Homo sapiens: one gene and its partners. The protein of the gene in region 1 purifies or fractionates together with the protein of each later gene. This does not show direct contact. Each region holds a gene or a part of one and is shown in the gene's direction. Other genes may lie near its edges. The genes, in order: NRSN1, ZDHHC9, PUSL1, PACC1, NDFIP2, DSC3 and HGFAC.

Evidence for each region.
Region 2: the proteins of NRSN1 (region 1) and ZDHHC9 purify together in Homo sapiens (affinity purification with mass spectrometry; one large-scale study listed by BioGRID and IntAct). This does not show direct contact.
Region 3: the proteins of NRSN1 (region 1) and PUSL1 purify together in Homo sapiens (affinity purification with mass spectrometry; one large-scale study listed by BioGRID and IntAct). This does not show direct contact.
Region 4: the proteins of NRSN1 (region 1) and PACC1 purify together in Homo sapiens (affinity purification with mass spectrometry; one large-scale study listed by BioGRID and IntAct). This does not show direct contact.
Region 5: the proteins of NRSN1 (region 1) and NDFIP2 purify together in Homo sapiens (affinity purification with mass spectrometry; one large-scale study listed by BioGRID and IntAct). This does not show direct contact.
Region 6: the proteins of NRSN1 (region 1) and DSC3 purify together in Homo sapiens (affinity purification with mass spectrometry; one large-scale study listed by BioGRID and IntAct). This does not show direct contact.
Region 7: the proteins of NRSN1 (region 1) and HGFAC purify together in Homo sapiens (affinity purification with mass spectrometry; one large-scale study listed by BioGRID and IntAct). This does not show direct contact.

Annotation. Positions count from the first base shown.
Region 1 is NC_000006.12:24,132,715-24,136,214, forward strand, and holds part of NRSN1 (neurensin-1), read left to right. Parts: intron 1-1,604; 5' UTR 1,605-1,613; coding exon 1,614-1,802; intron 1,803-3,500. UniProt on the Homo sapiens protein: May play an important role in neural organelle transport, and in transduction of nerve signals or in nerve growth. May play a role in neurite extension. May play a role in memory consolidation.
Region 2 is NC_000023.11:129,816,387-129,819,886, reverse strand, and holds part of ZDHHC9 (palmitoyltransferase ZDHHC9), read left to right. Parts: intron 1-3,500. UniProt on the Homo sapiens protein: Palmitoyltransferase that catalyzes the addition of palmitate onto various protein substrates, such as ADRB2, GSDMD, HRAS, NRAS and CGAS. The ZDHHC9-GOLGA7 complex is a palmitoyltransferase specific for HRAS and NRAS.
Region 3 is NC_000001.11:1,307,366-1,311,396, forward strand, and holds the start of PUSL1 (tRNA pseudouridine synthase-like 1), read left to right. Parts: upstream 1-1,231; 5' UTR 1,232-1,278; coding exon 1,279-1,355; intron 1,356-1,549; coding exon 1,550-1,607; intron 1,608-1,720; coding exon 1,721-1,908; intron 1,909-2,088; coding exon 2,089-2,238; intron 2,239-2,315; coding exon 2,316-2,486; intron 2,487-3,268; coding exon 3,269-3,323; intron 3,324-3,422; coding exon of another isoform or gene 3,423-3,435; exon of another isoform or gene 3,436-3,474; coding exon of another isoform or gene 3,475-3,543; coding exon 3,544-3,706; intron 3,707-3,964; coding exon 3,965-4,014; coding exon of another isoform or gene 4,015-4,031. Other genes in the region: ACAP3 (arf-GAP with coiled-coil, ANK repeat and PH domain-containing protein 3), read right to left, coding at 404-450.
Region 4 is NC_000001.11:212,366,658-212,369,886, reverse strand, and holds part of PACC1 (proton-activated chloride channel), read left to right. Parts: intron 1-3,229. UniProt on the Homo sapiens protein: Chloride channel gated by pH that facilitates the entry of chloride ions into cells upon exposure to extracellular acidic pH. Involved in acidosis-induced cell death by mediating chloride influx and subsequent cell swelling.
Region 5 is NC_000013.11:79,536,655-79,540,154, forward strand, and holds part of NDFIP2 (NEDD4 family-interacting protein 2), read left to right. Parts: intron 1-3,027; coding exon 3,028-3,121; intron 3,122-3,500. UniProt on the Homo sapiens protein: Activates HECT domain-containing E3 ubiquitin-protein ligases, including ITCH, NEDD4, NEDD4L, SMURF2, WWP1 and WWP2, and consequently modulates the stability of their targets. As a result, may control many cellular processes.
Region 6 is NC_000018.10:31,008,243-31,011,742, reverse strand, and holds part of DSC3 (desmocollin-3 isoform Dsc3a preproprotein), read left to right. Parts: intron 1-3,217; coding exon 3,218-3,474; intron 3,475-3,500. UniProt on the Homo sapiens protein: A component of desmosome cell-cell junctions which are required for positive regulation of cellular adhesion. Required for cell-cell adhesion in the epidermis, as a result required for the maintenance of the dermal cohesion and the dermal barrier function.
Region 7 is NC_000004.12:3,447,477-3,449,986, forward strand, and holds the end of HGFAC (hepatocyte growth factor activator serine protease isoform 2 preproprotein), read left to right. Parts: intron 1-15; coding exon 16-155; intron 156-418; coding exon 419-559; intron 560-651; coding exon 652-800; intron 801-1,760; coding exon 1,761-1,943; 3' UTR 1,944-2,010; downstream 2,011-2,510. UniProt on the Homo sapiens protein: Serine protease that hydrolyzes the inactive zymogen hepatocyte growth factor (HGFsc) to an activated disulfide-linked heterodimer, then initiating hepatocyte growth factor receptor signaling pathway.

The DNA of each region.
Region 1 (3,500 bases):
TGTGCAGAACGTACAGGCTTGTTACATAGGTATACATGTGCCATGGTGATGTGTTGCACCCATCAACCCATCACCTAGGTTTTAAGGCCCACATGCATTAGGTATTTGTCCTAATGCTCTCCATCCCCTTGCTCCCCACCCCCTGACAGGTGTGTGATGTTCCCCTCCCTGTGTCACTGTGTTACCATCTGTGTACAGGATAATTTAAAAATCCAAACACGTATTTCACATTTCCAGCTATACATTTATTTGCTTATATGGAGATCAGAAATTAAGACGATAACTGACAATTCCCTTATTCAACAAAATTACTGTCACTCAGTAATTCTTTCTTTTTTTTAACCATGATTAGTAACAAAATCCATATAAATGCCTCTCTCTAAGGGTATCAATTAGGTCAAATAAAGTAGAAATTTCCATCTTAAAAAGGCAGAACCCAAAACAACCTGCCTAGGACATAGTTTTATTTAACAGTTCTCTGAGTTCTTACTTACAGTAGACACTTCATGGAAAATAATAAAAGGTTGTGTCCACTCTCCACATTATACTCTAGCCACCCACATGGACAGATGTATCCACAAACAATGGGTAAAATATATGGTGTTAGAGTTAGTGAGGTGTAAATTATTGGCCAAGCCATTTGTGATTAATAAAGCATGAGGCATAAATTGCTCAGCAGCTTTTTAATAAAGCTTCATACAACTTGACAATTAGTTAAAATGTCAGAGGAAGATACATGAGATCGGAAGGCAAAATTTCAAACTAGTAAGAGTAATGCGGTGTAGATTCCACAAGGAAACATAGTTAAAAATCTGAGAGGACAGTCTAAGACAAACTCCATCTTCAGCAAATGAGAATGCCTGCCCAATTCTTTAACATGTAAGTGCAAAGACAACTAGATTCTAAGAGATTAAAGATTTCTTGTCAAGGCAATAAAAAATCTCAGCTTCTTTGTTGCCATTTCTTGTGTGCTTCATGCTTAAATGTGTACCTAATTTATGTGAGTTGTGCTGTTGTATCTCATTTCATTTATGGAGATGCAGTTCTAGTCATTGAGTGTTTAGGTAATCTTGCATTAAGCAAAAAAGAAGAACAGCTTATAAGAAAGACAGGTTTGTTGTTGTTGTTGTTTGTTTTATTGAGACGGAGTCTCACTCTGTCACCCAGGCTGGAGTGCAGTGGTGCGATCTTGGCTCACTGCAAGCCCCACCTCCCGGGTTCACGCCATTCTCCTGCCTCAGCCTCCCAAGTAGCTGGGACTACAGGTGCCCACCACCACACCCAGCTAATTGTGTGTGTGTGTGTGTGTGTGTGTGTGTGTGTGTGTTTTTAGTAGAGACAGGGTTTCACCGTGTTAGCCAGGATGGTCTCCATCTCCTCACCTCGTGATCCTCCCTCCTCAGCCTCCCAAAGTGCTGGGATTACAGGCGTGAGCCACTGCGCCCCGCCAAGAGAGAGGGGTCTTTAAAAGTACCTTTTCTGTAATGAAAAGAGCATTGTTCAACTAGGCATACATTACTCAGTCTGGTTCTTACCTTTCATATGTCTTTTGATCCTGTGGCCAAAGCCTGTGGCATTAATCCATGTGGATGTTGTCATTCCAGCTGGGAAGGATGAGTTCTTGCAGCAACGTCTGTGGGTCCAGGCAGGCACAGGCTGCAGCTGAGGGTGGTTACCAGCGCTATGGAGTCCGGTCCTACCTGCACCAGTTTTATGAGGACTGTACAGCCTCAATTTGGGAGTATGAGGATGATTTCCAGATCCAAAGATCACCTAACAGGTGGAGCTCAGTATTCTGGAAGGTAAGGAAGGAGCATGTGTTTAACTTAGGGAATGGAAAAATTATTGGACATGGTTAATACTGCAGCTGTGGAGGATGGAGAGGTTTAGTACTCGCTGTGTGTGCATCACTCTTGGTGATACTAAATGCATTTTTCTTACCTTAGGAAAGAAGAATCTAAACCTTGGGCCAAAGAAAGCCTCTAAACACAGCACAACTATTGATGAGCAGATTAAACATAAATAGGTGCAATTGCCATATGAATTATTATTATTGCTACCATTAAAAATGTGCCATTAAATTCACTAATTGAAGCCATCCATAGGCAAAACATTATATTCTTTCAGCCTTCCTTACAGGCGTGGTAAGTATCATCTGACAAGTTGCAACAATTATTAAAAAGAAATCATTAGGTATTTAGAGAGAGTTAATGATGAAATGTAGTACAGTGGTCAGTATACCAGCTCCGTCTCTACCGAGTGTGTGATCATGAGGCTTTCTGACCCCAGCTTCCTCAAATGAAGGAATCTCATTAGACAATGTATTTAGTCCCTCAACAGATAATTAGTGAGCATCTACTCTGTGCCAAGAGGGTTCAAAGTTCTGGAAGTTAAAGTGGTAAACAGGGAAAGAAAAAGTGACTTCCCTCATGGAGCTTACAATCTATCATGGGAAACAGGCTGTAAACAAAGAAACCACATGATAGAATGTTAGGTAGTGATAGTGCTATGGATGACAGGGGGTGATGGAGACTGGTATTTGGATATGCTGATGGTAGAAGGCTTTCAGAAGAGATGCCATCTCAAGGAATACCAGGATGAGTTGAGGGAACAGACCTGACTGAAGGTCATCCTAGACTGGGAAAATAGTAAGTCCAAAAACTCTGAAATGGGAACAAGTTTGGTGTGTTTGAAAATGATCCAGAGGTCTCCAATCTGGTTGGAGTGGGGTGAGAAAAGGGACAGGCAATGAATTAAGAAAAATAACAAGGCACAGATGATTTATGTAGAGCCTTGTACACCACAGTGAAGTCTTGGGTTTTTACTTCGAGAGACATGGGAAGCTACTGGAAGAGGTTGATAAATTTAGAGGGTGTTAAAGTACCCAGGCAAAAGATGCTGGTGGCGTTAGTGGAGATGGTGAAAAGTAGTCAGATTTAGGTAAAGGTTATGCCTATTAGACATCGGAGTAGTGATCTCTAGTGACAATTTAAATATATCAATCTACGGCTCATAAATTGGGAGTTATTGACACATAGAATCTATACAAGGCACTAGACTTCTGAGATCATCCAGGAGAAGAGTGTGGACATAGAAGAGAAGAGGGCATTGGGACATTCCAACATTTAGAAACTAAGAAGGGGAAGAGGCTTCAGGGATACTGAGAAGATGAACCTTAGATAATGCCTAAGGTCTTCCTTAATCTTTGTTTCTCCCAAAAGATCCCAGAATTTTTTGACATGGATATTGACATAAACTTGCAATTTATTGGCCATATAGTGTAACAAGAGGCTGTATAGCCTAATAATTATAAACATAGATTCTAACCTCAGACTACATGAGCTCAAACCCCAGCTCTTTTGTTTAATCATTCTGTAACCCTGGGCAAATTAATTGGCCTTATGGGGCCTCTAATGGTGATACTTATAGCACCAACCACATAAAAGATATGAGAATTAAATGAGATAGTATTTACAAAGAGCTTAACACTGTCTTGGTAT
Region 2 (3,500 bases), on another chromosome or scaffold:
CGTCTCTACTAAAACATACAAAAATTAGCTGGACGTGGTGACATGTGCCTGTAATCCCAGCTGAGACCCTGGCTGAGGCATGAGAATAAAAAACCCATGAGGTGGAGGCTGCATTGAACCGAGATTGTGCCACTGCACTCCAGCCTGGGCGACAGAGTAAGACTCTGTCTCTAAATAAATAAATAAATAAATAATAGGACATTCGTACATTAGACTGATGGAAAGAGTTCATACCAGAAAGCTAAATGACAAAATGGGAGATAGGCTACATTTACAGTGTGAAGTCAGTTACCTATTTTTAAAAAATCTAATGATGTATAAAGAAATATGCAAGGAAATACAGGAAATATGCCACAATTTTTATAGTTTATTATCTATAGGTTGTGGGATTATGAGTGATTTTGTTTCCTTCATTTTTTCATATGCCATCCTCCACTACTGTGATTTCTTCATTTTTCCTTTTATTTTTTTCAAGTTTTCTACAATGAGCATGTATTACTTGTATTATCAGAAAAAATGTGATTTAAAATACTGTAAAAAATATATATCTGTATAACCATTCTTCTCTATACCTTTCTTCCCTTTCCTGAAAAGATGTAGCTTCCTCAGCAGGAGATAGACCATTTTTACAGCCTTATTTTTTCACCAGTACACAGCTCACTTTTCTTTCAAATTGATATATTTTATTCTTTTTTTTTTTTTTTTTTTTTTTTTGAGACGGAGGCTGTCTCTCTCTCCCAGTCTGGAGTGCAGTGGCGCGATCTCAGCTCACTGCAAGCTCCGCCTCCTGGGTTCACGCCATTCTTCTGCCTCAGCCTCCCGAGTAGCTGGGACTACAGGCTCCCGCCACCACGCCTGGCTAATTTTTTTGTATTTTTAGTAGAGACGGGATTTCACCGTGTTAGCCAGGATGGTCTCTATCTCCTGACCTTGTGATCCACCTGCCTCGGCCTCCCAAAGTGCTGGGATTACTGGTGTGAGCCACCACGCCTGGCCCAAATTGATGTATTTTATTCTTTTGTAGTCTTTTATTCATCAAAATAACACATGTTCATTGTGGAAAATATGGGAAGTGCAGAAAGTATAAATAAAACTTAATCCTAAATTCACTCTCCATTTTGCTATATTTCCTACTAGTGTTTCTGCAAAATTGGACTGTAACATGATAGTTTTTAATCCTGCTTTTGTCATTTAACATTCTATCCTGAGCGTTTTTCTACATCTTTAATAAATGTTTCTTTAATATATTATTTTAATGACTGCATAATCCATCATATGGTTCTATTCAAGTTTATTCAGGCAGTCTTCTGTCATTAGACATTATTCATTCTTCTATTTTATTCATTGTTGTAACACTGCAATCATAATTATTAAACTTAAGGATGTGGAACAATTGGAACCTTCATACATTTCTGGTGAGAATGTAAAATCATGCAGCTGCTGTGGAAAAGTTTGGTGGTTCCTCAAAAAGTTAAACATAGAATTACCACATGACCCAGCAATTCCACTCCTGGGTGTATACCTATATTAGTCTGCTTGGGTTACCATAACAAAATACCTCAGACTGGCTGGCTCAAACAATGGGAATTTTTCTCTCACAATTCTGGAGGCTGGAAGTCCAAGATAGAGGTGCGAGAAGGGATGGTTTCTGGTGAGGCCTCTCCCCCTGGCTTGCAGATGGCTGCCTTCTTGCTGTGTCCTCACGTGACCTTTTCTCTGTGCTCACACACTACTGGTGTCTCATCCTCTCCTTACAAGGACACCAGTCCCATCGGATTAGGGCCCCATCCAGATGACCTCATTTAACTTTAGCTACCTCCTTAAAGGTTCTGCCTCCAAGTGCAGCTACATTGGGGGTTAGGGCTTCAACATATGGAACTGGGGAGTGGGGGTACAGTTCATTCCATAACAATAGCCAAAAGAATTGACAACAAGGACTCAAAACCTACTTGTACGCCAGTGTTCGTAGCATCATTATTCACAGTAGCCAAAAGGTGTAACCAACCCAAGTGTCTATCAACAGATGAATGGTTAAACAAAATGTGGTATGTACATACGGTGGAATATTATCCAGTCATAAAAAGGAATACAGTACTGATACAATGTGGATGAACCTTGAAAACATGCTATGTGAAAAAAAAAAAGACACAAAAAGACAAATATTGTGTGATTCCGCTTATATGAGATATCTAGAATGGGCAAATTCATAGAGACAGAAGATTAGAGATTGCTAGGGGATGGGGAAGGGGGAAATGGAGAGTTACTGCTTAATGGGTGCAGAGTTTCTGTTTGGAGTAATGAAAGGGTTTTGGAAATAGATAATGGTGATGGTTCCACATTATGAATGTAATTAATGCCACTGAATTGCACACTTAAAATGGTTAAAATGGCAAATTGTATGTTATGTATATTTTACCATAATAGATTTTTTTTTTAAGACAGGGTCTCACTCTGTCACCCAGGCTGGAGTGCAGTGGCGTGATCTCAGCTCACTGCAACCTCCGCCTCCCGAGCTCAAGTGATCCCCCCACCTCAGCCTCGTGATTGGCTGGGATTACAGGTGTGCACCACCACGACCCACGGATTTTTGCATTTTTTGGTAGAGATGGGGTTTCACCATGTTGGCCAGGCTGGTCTCAAACTCCTGACCTCATGATTCCCCTGCCTGGGCCTTCCAAACAATACAAAATTTAATTTAAAAGTTTGAACTTCGGCCGGGCGCAGTGGCTCATGCCTGTAATCCCAGTACTTTGGGAGGCTGAGGCGGGCATTTCACCTGAGGTCAGGAGTTCGAGACCAGCCTGGCTAACATGGCAAAACCCCGTCTCTGCTAAAAATACAAAAATTAGCTGGGCGTGGTGGCGGATGCCTGTAATCCCAGCTACTCGGGCAGCTGATGAGGCTTGAACCTGGGAGGTGGAGGTTGCAGTGAGCCGAGATCGCACCATTGCACTCCAGCCTGGGTGACAAGTGTGAAACTGTGTCTCAAAAATAAATAAATAAATAAAAATAAAAATTTGAACTTAAAATTTCTGTGTACATTTCTATTTTCTTATGAGAAATTGCTGAAAATGGACTTATTCTACCAAAGGGGTACAAGCTTTATGAAGGCTCTTGATACGTACTGCCAAATTGCTTTCTGGGAAGGTTCTTTCATTTTATGCTCCCACAAGCAGTATGTTAGAGTGTCCATTTTACCCTATTCTCACTAGCACTGGATTTTATTATTTATATTCTTATTTTGATAGGCATAAAATATGCTATTATTTTACTAGTATTACAATGAATTATTGGTGACTAGGAAAAATATTAAATATAGGTTTTATGGTATTTATTAGTTTTTGCCCTATTTCCTTTTTGTTTGTTTTTTGTTTTTGTTTTATGTGCAGTCGACTCTTGAACAATGCAGTTTTGTACTGCATGGGCCCACTTAATAATGAGGGTTTTTTTTTTCCAATAAATACAGTATCAGTGTGTTCCTCATCTGCAACCAAATGCGG
Region 3 (4,031 bases), on another chromosome or scaffold:
TGTTCCCCACGCGCTGCTCTGGACACAGGATCAAGTCAGAGACCAGGGGCCGACGCCCCCACGGACCCAGACGACCCTGGCCAGAGCTGGACTGCAGGGCCCGGGAGGGGCTCAGCCCAGTGGAGGTGCAGACACAGAGCGGGGGCGGACGGTCCCGAGGTGCCCACGGCTGCCCACGCGCACGCCCTCCACCCGGGGCGGCCGCACAGGGCAGGAGCGTCTTTTGTTCCAACCCCCGGGGCATGGCGGGGCGGGGCCGCCGCTTTGTCCGAGGCCGGTCCTCCAGCCCCTCCCCGGCGGCCGCGGCCCGGCCCGGCGCTGACCTCCCCACCCCGCCGCCGGGCACAAAGGCGACAGCGACGCCCCCGGCCTGCGCCCACCCCGGCGGCCCCGGGCGGCGCACCTGAAGCGCGGGGAGTCCTTGACGCACTCCTCGAACTCCACGGTCATGGCTGCGGCGGCCGCGGCGCTCACTGGCACGAGGACCGCGGCGCCGAGCGGCAGCCGCGCCGGCCCGGACCGCTCGTCCCGCCCGCGCCGCCTCGGCGCCCGCCCGCCCCGGAATGAGGCCGCCGCGCCGCGCCCCGCCCCGCCTGTCACCGCCGGGGAGCGTCGCCAAAGTCAGCCGCCCGCGCGCACCGCCCGCTGTCACTGCCGGGGAGCGTCGCCAAGGTCCGCCGCCCGCGCGCGCCGCCCGCTGTCACCGCCGGGGAGCGTCGCCAAACGCCTCTCGCAGCGTCCAGGGACCACCCCGGTCCGGAAGTGAGGCGGGGCCTGCCACGGCCGTCTCCGGGGACAGTCGGTGGAAATGTGGGGCGCGGGGAGGGCGCGGGGAGGGCGCGGGCCCGCCCGCTCCAACCATCCCGGCCGTTGCGCAACTCAGGGCGTTTGCAAAAACCACGTCTGGGAGGACTTGGCCGCAACGCGGCGAACGGGCGCGCTCGGGGAGTGTGGGCGGCGGCGAATGAATGAGCGAGTGAACGAATGCACGCCCGCGAGAGCGCGGGGTGACCGCGTGGTTGGTGCGCGCCTCCCGGGGCGCCGCGATAGAGGTAGAGCGCCTGCGCTCGGCGGCGGGCCGGCACTTTGCAGCCGCTCCCTAAGCCCGGCCCCGCCTCCGCTCCCCGACTCTGGCCGCCGTGGCGCGGTGCCACCGCGCAGGCGCAAGAGCGGCCGGGGCCGGGGGGGAGGGGGGGGGGGCGTGACCAGGCCGCGTCCGCGCGCGCGCAGGATTCCTGCGCTGGAGGCCGCCTCTGACGCCACCGGCTGGGCTCCGCCATGAGTTCGGCGCCGGCCTCAGGCTCCGTGCGCGCGCGCTATCTTGTGTACTTCCAGTACGTGGGCACCGACTTTAAGTAGGTTTCCCAGGCGCAGCGGCGGGCGCCACGTGGGCCCGGGCGGAGGCGGGAAGGAGGGCGCGGGCGGGCAGGCGGATGTCTCTGGACGCGGGTTCCAAACGTTCGGGGAAGGAAGCGGCCCTGGCCTCAGACGGCGGCGGAGACCCCAGGGCAGGGCGCCCCCGGTAACCTCCGCCCGCTTCTGCCCGCAGCGGGGTCGCGGCCGTCAGGGGCACTCAGCGCGCCGTCGGGGTCCAGAACTACCTGGAGGTGCGCTCAGCCGGTCACGGGACGCCCGGTGAGGGGTAAGGGGGAGGCTCCCGCCCGCGCGTCCCCGGGGTCCGGCCTCGCTCACCCGCCCGCCCCGCGGCTCGGTCCTGCAGGAGGCCGCCGAGCGGCTGAATTCCGTGGAGCCGGTCAGGTTCACCATCTCCAGCCGCACGGACGCCGGGGTCCACGCCCTGAGCAACGCGGCGCACCTGGACGTCCAGCGCCGCTCAGGCCGGCCGCCCTTCCCGCCCGAGGTCCTGGCCGAGGCCCTCAACACACACCTGCGGCACCCGGCCATCAGGTGAGCCCGCGACCTAAGCAGCCCTGGGGCTGTGCCTTCCCGACTCCATCTGTCGCGGGCGGAGGCTGGAGATCTGGACAGACTTCCTTGTCTGGTCGGAGCTCGAGGGGGAAGGAGAGCCAATGTGACACCGCGGGCGGGCGGGGTCGTTCCTCCGGTGAGCTTTACCTGCCGCCATAGGGTCCTGCGGGCCTTCCGAGTGCCCAGCGACTTCCACGCTCGTCACGCAGCCACGTCCCGGACCTACCTGTACCGCCTGGCCACTGGCTGTCACCGGCGTGATGAGCTGCCGGTGTTTGAACGCAACCTATGCTGGACTCTCCCGGCAGAGTGAGTGTGGCCCTGACAGCGGGGAGGGGGCGGGCAGGCCGGCCCCACCCTCCTGACGGTCACCCTGGTCCCTGAAGCTGCCTGGATATGGTCGCCATGCAGGAAGCCGCCCAGCACCTCCTCGGCACACACGACTTCAGCGCCTTCCAGTCCGCTGGCAGCCCGGTGCCGAGCCCCGTGCGAACGCTGCGCCGGGTCTCCGTTTCCCCAGGCCAAGCCAGCCCCTTGGTCACCCCCGAGGAGAGCAGGTGAGGAAGGGCCCCTGGGCTGTGGCCCTGCCCTCAAGTCACGTGCTGATTTTAGCTCCAGCACCTCCCCCAGTTTTAAGGCAAGGTGAGGCGGGAGGCAGGCAGCCGGGAGTCCTCAGGACCTGGACAGCTGGAGGGGATTCGCCCGGACGCCCCCCAGCCTCCAGCTGTGCCCTCCCCCCAGGCTGGGGAGCGGAGAACAGGGAAGGCTGCTTGTCTCTGAAAAACCCCTGCCATGCCTGATGGAAGAATGTTGGCAGCTACTGGAAAGGTCTCACTGGTGCCAGTGGTTCTGGTGGGGTGGTTTCTGCTGCCCCCAGCACTGTCCCGAGGGCCACCCACCAGGTGGCAGCTTCTGACCAGAACCTCCCCTATTGGGGTGAGCCCTGAAGGGGGGAAGAACTTCTGCCAGCCCCAGACTTCTGTGGCAGAGCAGCAGGTACAGGACTGGGGGTCTCTGGCACCCGCACCAGCCACGTTCCCAGACCCTGCACCAGGACCCTAGGTGAGGGCCCAGGGCAAGCCCCTCTGGGATGGCCAGGCTACCTGCCCAGCCTCCAGGGTCCTGCTGCCTCCTTGCCCAAGCATTGTTTCTCTGGTTTTAAGCCCCTCCAATGGGCCTCACTGGGGGCAGGAGATCAGCCAGGGCCCCTGGTGGCCAAGCTAGTGGGAACCAGGCTCGTCTTTAGGCCCACCCTGTCACTCTCCCGTCCAAGGCCACATAGTAGGCTGAGGATGGCAAACACTGCCCCACAGACACCTACAGGTACGTATTTTTCCAGGAAGCTGCGGTTCTGGAACCTGGAGTTTGAGAGCCAGTCTTTCCTGTATAGACAGGTAGGCTCTGTTCTGGGGCCGTCCCCAGGGGGTGGGGCTGAGGGTGGGCAGGCCCCTGTGCAGTCTTGGCTCTGGGTCGTGGGCGGCTCTGGGTCACAGGTACGGAGGATGACGGCTGTGCTGGTGGGTCACGGGCGGCTCTGGGTCACAGGTACGGAGGATGACGGCTGTGCTGGTGGGTCACGGGCGGCTCTGGGTCACAGGTGGCTCTGGGTCACAGGTACGGAGGATGACGGCTGTGCTGGTGGCCGTGGGGCTGGGGGCTTTGGCACCTGCCCAGGTGAAGACGATTCTGGAGAGCCAAGATCCCCTGGGCAAGCACCAGACACGTGTAGCCCCAGCCCACGGCTTATTCCTCAAGTCAGTGCTGTACGGGAACCTCGGTAAGAAAAACAGGCACGAGAAGCTCCTGTCATGTGCCCAGTGACTACTGTGGCCGAGGCATGGGGTGGGGGGCCAGGGGCCACTGACGGCAGCAACTGGGGGTGAAGCAGCCCCCCGCCCAGGGCTGCAGTCCCTCAGGCCAGCCCGTAGCCCGTCCTGGGCTGGCCCACTCCCTGGTCATGGGAGTGGTCTCAGCGGTGGGGAGGGTGCTGGGCCGGTCTTGCCCCAGGCTGACGCAGGGTCTGGTCCGTCCACAGGTGCTGCCTCCTGCACCCTGCAGGGGCCACAGTTCGGGAGCCACGGATGACCCTGGACACTCAAGCC
Region 4 (3,229 bases), on another chromosome or scaffold:
CTTGAAGTCTATTTTATCTGTTACAGGTATAGTTAAACCTGTTTTTTTATTTACATTTGTGTGGGATGTCTTTTTCTATCCCTTCACTTTTTTTTTTTTTTTTTCTGAGATGGAGTCTTGCTCTCTTGCCCAGGCTGGAGTGCAGTGGCATGATCTTGGCTCACTGCAACCTCCACCTCCCGGGTTCAAGTGATTCTGCTGCCTCAGGCTCCCAAGTAGCTGAGATTACAGGCATGCGCCACCACACCTGGCTCATTTTTGTATTTTTAGTAGAGACAGGGTTTTGCCATGTTGACCAGGCTGGTCTCAAACTCCTGATCTCAAGCAATCTGCCCACCTTGGCCTCCCAAAGTGCTGGGATTATAGGCATAAGCCATCACGCCTGGCCTGTCTCTTCACTTTCAATCTGTGTATCTTTACAGGTGAACTATACGCTGTATGGCAGCATACCGTTGGGTCTTGTTTTTTAATAAATTCAGCAACTGTGTCTTAAGAATTTGGTCCATTTACATTCAATATTATTACTGATAGAGAAGGACTTACTACGGCTATTTCGTTTTTTGTTTTTTGGTTTTGTAACTTCATTCTTCTTACTGTCTTTGTGGATAAATGATTATCTCTTTAAATTCCTTACTTTTTATTTTTATTATATCCATTATAGGTTTTTGCTTTATGGTTACCATAAGGCTTATAAAAAACATCTTGCAGTTAAAACAAGTTATTTTAAATTGAGGACAACTTAACTTTGATCACAAAGAAACAAAAAACTTTTAAAACTACACTTCAACTCCATACTCCTCACATTTTGACTTTTTATTATATCTATTTATATTTTTGTTTTGCCTCTTTTTTTTTTTTTTTGAGACGGAGTCTCACCCTGTCACCCAGGCTGGAGTGCAGTGGCCCAATCTCAGCTCACTGCAAGCTCCCGGGTTCACACCATTCTCCTACCTCAGCCTCCCGAGTAGCTGGGACTGCAGGCACCCGCCACCACGCCCGGCTAATTTTTTGTATTTTTGGTAGAGACAGGGTTTCACCGTGTTAGCCAGGATGGTCTTGATCTCATGACCTTGTGATCCGCCCGCCTCGGCCTCCCAAAGTGCTGGGATTACAGGCATGAGCCACCGCACCCGGCCAAGGCCATTGACTCTTGATTTACCCTTTTGAGGCTATTTTCTAGACCTTGTGAGTGTTCTTCATTCTTTTTTTTTTATTTGTGTATTTTCATATAATTTGTCTTTAAGCTCACTAATTCTTCTGCTTGATCAATTCTGTGAGGCACTCTGATGCATTTTTCAGTCTGTTAATTGTACTTTTCAGCTCTAGGATTTTTATTTGAATTTTTAAAAATTATTTTAATCTCTGTTGAATTTCTTTGATAAATTTCTGAATTGAGTCTTTGTGTTTCATTGAAGTTCCTGGAGTTTCCTCAGAACATCTATTTTGAATTCCCTGAGTGGTCACACATCTCTCTCTCCCGGATTGGTCACTGGCACCTTAGTCTGTTTGATGAGATTGTATTTCTCTGAACTTTTCTGGTGCTTGTGTACGTCTGTCTATGGGCATTGAAGATTTAGGTGTTTATTTCAGTCTTCACAGTCTGCCCTTGTTTATACCCATCTATCTTCAGGAGATTTTCTACAAATTGAAAGGTGACTGATGATGAGTTCCCTAAGCGTGTAGTCAGTCACTGCAGCTGTTTCAGCACTAGAGGGCAGTCTAAGCCAAGTTACACTGTGACTATCTTGTAGACTTCTAGATATCCAGCCCTGATGTACTTGGGGAGGATCAGAGAGAATGCCCTGGGGGTTCCCAGGCAAAGTCCCTTATCTTTCCCTCAAGGGGAAGGAGTCTCTCTGCTCTGAGTTGCCTGGAGTTGGGGAGGGGTAAGGCAGGTACTCCCATGGCTGTCACAGCTGGCACCACCCTGGGTCCCTCCTAAACCAATGCAATACTGGGGTTTGCTTAAGGCCACTTTAGTCAGCCAGTGGTGAAGCTGGCTGGGGTTTGGGTCCATCCTGCTAGGGTGGCCGATTGCCTTTTGGCCAGGGTGGGTTTAGAAGTGCCATTTGGGAGCAATAGCCTATAATTAGGGGATTCGGGATTCTTCCTGGTGCTGTGGCAGGGCTGGTACTAGGTTCCAAGGCAAAGTCCCTCATACTCTTCCCTCTCCTTTGCCCAAGCAGGAGTGTTCCACCATGCTGCACTGCCTGGAGTTGAGGCAGCTGGTGTCATGCTGGATCACACCCCAAACCCACAGACTCCCAGACCAGTGCAGTATCAGAGCTGTGGTTGCTATGGCCTGGCTGCCACTGAAATTATTTGGGGCCTAAGGCCACTTTAGTCTATTGTAAAGTGGGCCCAGACTTGGTTTCCTCCCACTGGGGTGGTAGATGCCCCTCTGATCTGGGGTGGGCCTAATACTCTTTTCACGGGCTCTAGCCTGGAATCAGGGCCTCAGAATTCTGCCTGGTGCTGTTTTCCCTTGTGAAGTTCCAATGCAAGTTCCAGACTCACTTCCCTCTCCCAAGCTCACAGATTCTCTCTGCTGCACTGCCTAAGGTTGGGGGAGGGGTGTGTAGGCAGCGTGAGACCCTCCTTTCTACTCTTCTTCAGTGTGTCTTTTCCTGTTATTATACTAAACCAGATACTGTGATCTCTCACCTGGTTTTTTGGCTCTTGTGTAGATACTTTCTTACATGGATAGCTGAGTTTGGTGTTGCTGCAGAGGACTATCGCTGGAGGGTTCTCTTTAGCCATCTGGCTCCACCTCCTCTAACGTCAAATTCTGACTCATGATCTTGGAAGGGGAGGAATAATTGGACAGCTTTGCTAAAGGAACATTTAAGACACACCGTCCACCAGAGCCAGGCCTAAATCTAGTATTGATTGGCATTCATGTCATCATAATATATCCTGATGTGATCATGGCTTACAGGAAACTGTTTCATAGCTGAGACCCAAACGTGTAAGCTTCCACCCCCAGGTGGGGATTCTGTGATACGGATGTGCTTGCTCTGCTATCACCCACTACCACTATTAATTATGGACTGGCAAGGCTTTGTATGAAGAGGGATGTGCAGAGGCTTATTGAATCAAGACTGGGGAGAAGGGCTTGCAGCTCGTTGTGTAATGTGTGATAAAACATTTTTTAACCTACTATATTCAGTATGAGGTACCTATTATGGGCCAAGTGGAGCCCAGTACCCGAGGCATGCTTTACTCAGCT
Region 5 (3,500 bases), on another chromosome or scaffold:
CTTAGTGGCCATTCCTCTAGAGTGAACAATTATTTTCAAATGTTTGTGTTTCGATTTTTTCTATTAATATTATAAAAGACATCTTTGGGCATATTGCAGTGACTCACTCCTGTAATCTCAGCACTTTGGGAGGCTGAGGCAAGCAGGTTGCTTGAGCTCAGGAGTTTGAGACCAGCCTGGGCAACACAGCGAGACCTTATTTCCACTAAAAAGAAAAAAAAAAATCAGCTAGGTGTGGTGGCATGCACCTGTAGTTCCAGCAACTTGGAAGGCTGAAGTGGGAAGATCACTTGAGCCCAGGAGATTGAGGCTGTAGTGATCCCGGATGAAGACTGCAGTGAGCCATGATTGTGCCACTGCACTCCAGCCTGGGTGAGAGTGAGATCTTGTCTTAATTTTTTTTTTTTTCCTAAATGATGACTTTTGATAAAATTTCTGTATTGATTTTTTGGTGGTGGTTGTTTTGTTTTTGAGGCGCAGTCTCACTCTGTCTCCTAGGCTGGAATGCAGTAGTGCAATCTCAGTTCAGTGCAACCTCCGCCTCCCCAGTTCAAATGATTCTCCTGCCTTAGCCTCTTGAGTAGCTGGGACTACAGGAGCACGCCACCACATCTGGTTAATTTGTTTTTGTATTTTTAGTAGAGATGGGTTTCGCCATGTTGGTCAGGCTAGTCTTGAACTCCTGACTTCAAGTGATCCACCCACCTCGGCCTCCCAAAGTGCTGGGATTACAGGCATGAGCCACTGTACCTGGCCTGGACTGATGTTTTAAAATACACAGTATGAAATATATTTTTGCCATCACACTGACAATTTTTTGTTCTTACTGTGCTTTAATGTTTATTTCTTGAATTAATTTGAAATTATTTAAAATTTTATAAATATGCACTTAGTCATGGCCAGTCATTAAATTTAGTATATTGAGTTTACCTATGATATATGATTGCACAATTTAAGGGATCTTTGTGCCCGAATAATAAGCAATATAAAATGGTTTTGAAAGTTTTTTTATTTCAGGATAGCAGTATGCTTAGTGAGACTACCATGATTGTGTGGAAACAACATCAGTGTCCTGGATTCAAGTTCCACTTTGACCCTCCTAATTATGTGATATTGAGCAGAGCCCTAGCTTCTCAGACTTGGCCTCACAAAATTGAGTTATTCACACTCAACTGAGATGATGTGTACCGTATTAGTCCATTTTCACACTGCTATAAAGAAATACCCAAGACTGGGGAATTTATAAAGAAAAGAGGTTTAATTGACTTACAGTTCTGCAGACTGTATAGGAAGCATAGCAGCTTCTGGGGAGGCCCCAGGAAACTTACGATTGTGGCGGAAGGTGAGGGGGAAGCAGGCCCATTTTACATGGCTGGAGCAGGAGGAAGAGAGAGAGTGAAGGGGTGATGCCACACACTTTTAAACAACCAGATCTCAGAAAAAACAATAATGCACTCACTCACTCTCATGAGAACAGCGCCCAGGAAAATGATGTGAAACCATTAGAAACCACCCCCATGATCCGATCACCTCCTACCAGGCCCAATCTCCAACAGTTGAGGATTACAGTTGAATATGAGATTTGGATGGGGACACAGATCGAACCATATAATTCTGTCCCTGGCCTCTCCCAGATCTCATGTCCTTCTCACATTTCAAAATACAACCATGCCTTCCCAAGAGTCCCCCAGAATCTTATTCCAGCATTAACTCAAAGAGTCAACAATCCAAAGCCTCATCTGAGACAAGGCAAGTCCCTTCCACCCACGGGCCTGTAAAATCAAAAACAAGCTAATTACTTCTAAGATAAAATGGCACTATAGGCATTGGGTAAATATGCTGGTTCCAAAAGGGAGAAATTGGCCAACAAAAGGGGATACAAGCCCCATGGAAGACCGAAACCAAGCCTGACAGTCATTAAATCCTAAAGTTCCAAGATAATATTTTTTTGAGACGGTCTCACTGTCGCCCAGACTGGAGTGCAGCGGTGTGATCTCGGCTCACTGCAGCTGCTACCTCCCGAGTTCAAGCGATTCTCATGCCTCAGCCTCCTGAGTAGCTGGGATTACAGGCATGTGCCACCATACCTGGCTAATTTTTGTATTTTTAGTAGAGGCAGGGTTTCACCATGCTGGCCAGGCAGGTCTTGAACTCCTGGCCTGAAGTGATCCACCTGTCTTGGCCTTCCAAAGTGTGAGATTATAGGCGTGAGCCACAGCGCCTGGCCAGAATAATCTTTGACTCCACGTCTCACATCCAGGGCTTACTGGTACAAGGGGTGGGCTTCCCAGGCCTTGGGTAGCTCTGCCCCTGAGGCTTTGCAGTGTACAGCTCTGTGGCTGCTTGAGGGACTGGCATCGAATGCCGGCAGCTTTTCCAGAAAAAAGGCCACCAATGCCTCTACCTGGAAGACATGTAGAAACATGATAGACTTGGGGAGAATTGTCTCCTAACATAGTCTGCTGTTGATGGGCATTTAGATTGTATCTAATCTTTTGCTCTTATTAACATTGCTGGAATGAATTATCTTTAATACATCATTTTTATAAGAGGGAATATGTGTGTGTGTGTATACATATATATATATGTGCAGTGTATTTTAAGAACTGGAATTGCTGGATCATAGGGTATGCACATTTTTATTTTTGATAATTATTGCAAAATTGCCAACAATATAAGTTGTACCAATTTATACTCCACCACTGGTTATGAAAGTTCTTATTTCCCAGTCATTACTAATGGAGCACTGTCACATGTATCTTCTTGATACCATTTTTATGAGTTTGATGTTATTCATCTTTTATCTTTTTTGTGTTTATCTTTAAAGTTACTCTTTTCAAATGTGACTGTGAAAAAATATTAGTTGCTAATGCTTATTGATTACTCTGTGCCAGACATTGTACTCATTATTGCATTTGTCTATACAACAAATTGAGAACATTAGATGTTGCTGAAGTTCTTATGCTTACATTTAAGATGATAAAGTTGTAATTTTTAGTGAGCTATTCCAATGTTACATATTTACAGATTCAGGAGGAAGAGTGTCCACCAAGAGATGACTTCAGTGATGCAGACCAGCTCAGAGTGGGGAATGATGGCATTTTCATGCTGGCATTTTTCAGTAAGTAATCTTCCTAAACTATTTTGGGTTGTTTTTATGAATTGGCTGTATGTGTATTAAAGTAACATAGTGAAGAGAAGCAAATATTGTTAGCATATGTCTACCTTTCTTAAAATGTAAATTGTTCCTGATATTGGACTAATGAATACTGTGATCATATGTTTAAATACAAATCCTAGAATTTATCAAACTCTTGTTGGATAAATTTATGCGTTGCAGCCATTATGAAGATGCTGACATGTAAAAGTACATAAGCATATTTAAGCTATTTCAGATTTTTAAAGAGAAATACTGCTATATTGGTGCCCATTCAGCTCTGTAGGAGCGTATAGAATGAAACTATAAATTGCACTATTGGGGCAGAGGATTTCCATTTGAG
Region 6 (3,500 bases), on another chromosome or scaffold:
AGGATTACAGACGTGAGCCACCGTGCCTGGCATCTTTAAGTACTTTTTAATCTCAGTGAGTCATCTTTTATTTGAAAATCAAACACTGTATAATCATGGTGTTCAAAATCCATGTTTCTGTCATGTAGGCTATGTACCTAATGATGACTAACCTTTTGAGTACTGATTAAAGAATGACATCACTATGTTGTTAACTCTAAAGGAATCCTCCTCTTCCAATGCCCTGGTTCTTCCTTGCTAGTCAGAATTATATCCAGGGAAAGAGTGCATGTTATTCATTCCTTTATACCTCAAAGAGTTAAGTAATCAGTAGGCCAAACCAAGAATTGCTCTGGTATACTTTTAGCTGAATAAAGCTTGCAAACATTGTCTTACTAGTTAGCGTCTCCTTTTATTGCAATATATTGGCTGTTAACAAAAACATACAGCATTTATTCCCTTCATTCGCCTCTGTGACAGCTTGAGAGATTACTCAGAATTTAGTGTAAAGCCTTATTTTATGCTGTAGTGTTAAATGTCATTCTTACAACAATTTCACAGAAGAGAAGAGTTAAAGAGACTAAATAACTTTCCCAATGCCACACAGCTAGGATGTAGTGTAGACAGAATTTGAACCTAGCTCTTTGACTCTAACTATACGCTGTCAAGCACTATGTTAAATTGTTTTCCACAGCTGTGTGATCTTGGAAAGTTGGCCTCTGTGTTATCTGTAAAATGGGAACAATACTTCTTTCTGCCTCCCTAATAGCTCTTCAAATATAATATTGAACGTAACAGCACTTGGTAAACTGTGGGATATTATTATTTTATTTTAAAAAGTTATGCTATGTCCTTGAGACTAGTGTTATAATGTTCCAAAATAGATAACTTTTCTGTAACCACAAAGCATGAGTGATACAGGCTTTTGCTGTGTTCTGGGTAAACTCATTCCACCTCAGTGGCTTCTGTCCATTGGAGCAGCAGCAGTGACGCATATGGGCTTGAGTGAGGATAGTATTATTCTTGGTCCTTCTCAACATGGAGAGTCCTCAGCTCCATTTCCACAACTATACATTTTCTAGGGAGTTGTTAACATCTCAGTGCAGATGTGGGATATTTTTAAGCACTTTTTTTAAGTGGCGAAACAAAAACGTACCCTGAGGTGGAAGAGAATTTACAGGCTTTCCTATTAATTAATGAGATTAACTAATCCCATTAATCTTTAGGATTTCATCTCACCAGATTTTTAATTTTGGAGAGTTTTAAGCTACTAAAACAATATCCATCTTAAGCCTCGAAAAATGGGACAAAGAAACTCCAAGGCTTCAGCGAGTGTTTCTGGATTGAATAGTTGCACCTCCTCCAGTGCAGCAGCTGTTCTCTAAATTTCCATCCATTTCTCATTGCCAGCAGTTGCTCTTACTCTCTGTGTGATCACACCAGCACATGAAATGTGTGAAACAGTATTCATCAGCATCAAACGAACAGATATTAATATTTTTTTCCTTGACTCTCCAGTTTGTGGGATATACATACAAAATAAAAAAAGGTTTTACATATGTTTTGTAGATTCTAAGATTCAGAAACTTTCTTGACTTTTTAGTGGACTCGTGATACTAATGTCTTACTCTGTTAATACCTAGGTGTGGAGAAAGATTTAAAATAATTTTATTCACCAGTTTTGATTTTGTTCAATGTTTAGCCAGTGATTGTTTTGATAAGCAGAAAGAGAAATTGAAGAAAAAGTGCTTCAACTTTATAGTACAGTGTAACATAATGTTTTATGGGTTTTACTTGATTTGTTATCTAAAACTGAATTTTAGTCAAAGATTGATTTGGAAATTTTTTAGAGATCAGTGAGCCAATTAAGCAGCACACGATAGCAGAGGGATTATAGCGTAGGCTAAGGAAATGGACTCAGGTCAGACTACCTGGCTTCAAATTCAAGCTCAAATGATTATCTTTTGGTCTTAAAAAAAAATCAGTTTATCTCCTTTTCCCGTTTTCTGCTCTGTAAAATGAGGATGAGGTCAATAATACTTACTTCATAATGTCATGAGGATTTAGTGAGTTTATTTTCACTGTTAGAGTAGTGCCTTAGATTCAATGATAATTAAAATCAATCACATAGTATTTCCCTTACTCCTCTGTGTATCCACTGTGAATGTTTCATTGGATAAATTATAGACAATGCCAAAGTATAATTCTCAAGTTTTCAAAAATGTAATTTTCATAAAAACAGGTAGTGGGCATGGATGGATAAAGGTTTTAACTCATTCATGAAGGAACCAGCAAAAAGACAAGTTGATTCCTAAGAAGAAATGAGACTCTGGATGGATTTTGATAAAAGAAAAGCAGCAATTAGATGGCTCAGTTAGATGCCTTAGAGGGCAATTAAAACACACATTTGGGGCCGGGCATGGTGGTTCACGCCTGTAATCCCAGCATTTAGGGATGCCAAGGGAGGTGGATCACCTGAGTTCAGGAGTTCGAGACCAGCCTAAGATGGCAGAACCCCATCTTTACTAAAGAAAAAAATACAAAAATTAGCTGATTATGGTGGCACGTGCCTGTAGTCCCAGCTACATGGGAGGCTGAGGCAGGAGAATCGCTTGAACCAAAGAGGCAGAGGTTGCAGTAAGCCAAGATTGCGCCACTGCTCTCCAGCCTGGGTGACAGAATGAGGCAAGACTCTGTCTCAAAAATAAAATAAAAGAAAATAAAATACTGGAGATATCTTTTCTATGAGACAGAAAATGAAATCATTGCACCTTTTGGTTTTGTGAAAGTCAACATCAAACTTTACAAGAGTTATAAAATGCCTGGGCCATAGTCAGTAGTAACTGATAAGCCAAATAAAGGCAACTTCCCATACTCAGATGACCGTTAGCCCAGCCTGTTAGACAGTGCTCCAAGCAGGACCATAAGAATACTGTCATCTGTTTGCATTACTTTTTGAATCAGAGTAATTTTCCTTAGTAAGAGTGAAATATGAAAATATTTCCGGAATTTCGTTTGTCCAACTCTATGAAACTACCTGCAGAAGTTGTTGGACCATTCTTGGTAGAGGCTTAGCACGGGATCCACTCTCTGTTTAGCAAGGGATAAAAGTCAGTATTAACAACATGTGAACATAGAATTTATGCAGCACTGGTCAGGATGACAAATGTTCACTTGCCATTTGAAATGCCAGATGTATTTTACACTGACACTGATATACATGGACTTTATTTTAAAGCCACTGAATTATGAAGAAAACCGTCAAGTGAACCTGGAAATTGGAGTAAACAATGAAGCGCCATTTGCTAGAGATATTCCCAGAGTGACAGCCTTGAACAGAGCCTTGGTTACAGTTCATGTGAGGGATCTGGATGAGGGGCCTGAATGCACTCCTGCAGCCCAATATGTGCGGATTAAAGAAAACTTAGCAGTGGGGTCAAAGATCAACGGCTATAAGGCATATGACCCCGAAAATAGAAATGGCAATGGTTTAAGGTAAAAATAAATCTATAACCACATAC
Region 7 (2,510 bases), on another chromosome or scaffold:
GCCCCCCTTGCACAGCCCCCCCAGGGACAGCGTCTCCGTGGTGCTGGGCCAGCACTTCTTCAACCGCACGACGGACGTGACGCAGACCTTCGGCATCGAGAAGTACATCCCGTACACCCTGTACTCGGTGTTCAACCCCAGCGACCACGACCTCGGTGAGCTCCGGCGTGTCGTGGCTGCACTCTGGGCAGGTGGGCCCTGTGCTCCCCAGGCCAGGCCCAGACAGGGGCAGGAGCTGGGCAGACATGTGGTGCGGGGGAAGCTGGGGGCAGGGCAGGGAGGACAGGGCACCGCTCCCTTCTGGATCTCCCAGGCTGCCCTGTGGACCCCACTGGCTACCCTCCCTCCACCACGGGCCCCGACAGCCTCCCGTTCAGCCCGCACACCACAGGCTGACCCTGGCCACTCTTCTGATCAGTCCTGATCCGGCTGAAGAAGAAAGGGGACCGCTGTGCCACACGCTCGCAGTTCGTGCAGCCCATCTGCCTGCCCGAGCCCGGCAGCACCTTCCCCGCAGGACACAAGTGCCAGATTGCGGGCTGGGGCCACTTGGATGAGAGTGAGTTGGGAGGGGGGCGCCCAGCGCCCCGCCAGGGTGGACAGTGGCCAGCCACAGTGTGGGTGTCACGCTGAGGGCATTGTGTCCCACAGACGTGAGCGGCTACTCCAGCTCCCTGCGGGAGGCCCTGGTCCCCCTGGTCGCCGACCACAAGTGCAGCAGCCCTGAGGTCTACGGCGCCGACATCAGCCCCAACATGCTCTGTGCCGGCTACTTCGACTGCAAGTCCGACGCCTGCCAGGTGAGCTGGTGCCCGCCCCACCAGGACCCGACTGGTGGGGGCTCAGCTGGTCCTGAGTCTCCGAGATGCTTGCCCCTGGGGAGCCCAGAGCCTGGCGGCACCCCAACCTGGCAGGGCCAGCCAGGGACCCCTGGGCAGGGAGCACACTTACTGTCGGTGGCCAGCACCCCAGGGCCACCCAGAGCCCTGCCGGAAGGGCATCCTCCTCACACAGAAGGGGAGACCCAGGCTCTGAGAGGGGCCTGGGGTCCCACAGAGCCCGGACAGTTCCTGGCTGTCCAGCCCAAGGCAGTGCTTTCCGTGTGACACTAGGCACCAAAGGCCCCTTTGCCCCGAGTTCTCTCAAGCCAGCTCTTCAACCTTCAATAAGTTCTTCAACCTTCAATAAGCCCAACAGCCCAACCACGTCCTGGGCTCTGCAGGCCTGTGTGCTCAGGCGGCACGGCAACCCTGGCATGCGACGGCTCTCTTATGCCCCATTTTATAGCTGGGGAGACTGAGCCCCAGGCAGTCAATTCACTCTTCCAAGGCCACAAAGCCCAGGAGTGGTAGAGTGGGTAGGGCTTGTCACTGGACCTCGATAAGGGAAGTCAGGATGGTTTCCTGGAGGAGGGAGTGTTTGCACTGGTCCTGAGTGATGCGTAGGAGTTTTCCAGGGAGTGAAGAAGTCATTTCAGGAGGTGCTGGGACACAGGGTGGCTGTGTGGTCCACACAGGGTTCATGCTGGTGGGGAGAGGGGGACCGTGGCTTCAGGAAGGGGAATAACGTGGTTGGATGCCCTGGCCCAGCCAGTGCTGCCCCCAGGGAATGAGACACCTTTTCATGAGGTTCAGGAGAGTGGATCAGCTCCCTTGCTCAGAAATGCCTTTGTCCTCTGTCCCCAAGCTGCCACTTGGGGGAGAGGGGGGTCCCTGAACCAGGCCCCTGGGAGGGTGGCTCTGACCAACGTCTCTGCCCAGGGGGACTCAGGGGGGCCCCTGGCCTGCGAGAAGAACGGCGTGGCTTACCTCTACGGCATCATCAGCTGGGGTGACGGCTGCGGGCGGCTCCACAAGCCGGGGGTCTACACCCGCGTGGCCAACTATGTGGACTGGATCAACGACCGGATACGGCCTCCCAGGCGGCTTGTGGCTCCCTCCTGACCCTCCAGCGGGACACCCTGGTTCCCACCATTCCCTGCCTTGCTGACAATAAAGATATTTCCAAGAACCCGGCCCACGCTGCCTGGCCCCTGCCTGCGGCCCCGCCTTCCCCTCCAGGCCATGACTGGGGCCCAGGTCTATGCGCAGCAGGCCTCAGGCTGCCGTTCTGGAGCGCACACAGTCCTCAGTGGAGACGGAGCCTGTGGCCCCACAGCGGGGTCTGGCCCCACGGCCCAGAGAGTTGTCAGGGGATGAGGTCTGGGCCTCTCCAGGCCCCAGCAGAGTCCAGCCCCCTCCCAGGCCAGCCCCAGGCCGGGGCTCAGCACCTGGGTTGTCCCAGGGCAGGAAGTGGAAACCAAGTCCAGGCCCCCAGGCGTGGAGGGGTCCGATCCGCGTGGTGCACGGAGTATTGAACCTGAAGAAGAAAGAGCGGCCCCACGGGAACACCCGCAGGCCGTCGTTGGTCTTCCAGATGGCAGCCCGCCTGCCTGAGCCTGGGCTGCACTTCCCGGGAGGGAGGAGGCCACAGGCTGCCTCTGTGGGGGCTGAGGGAGGGAGGGGCCCATG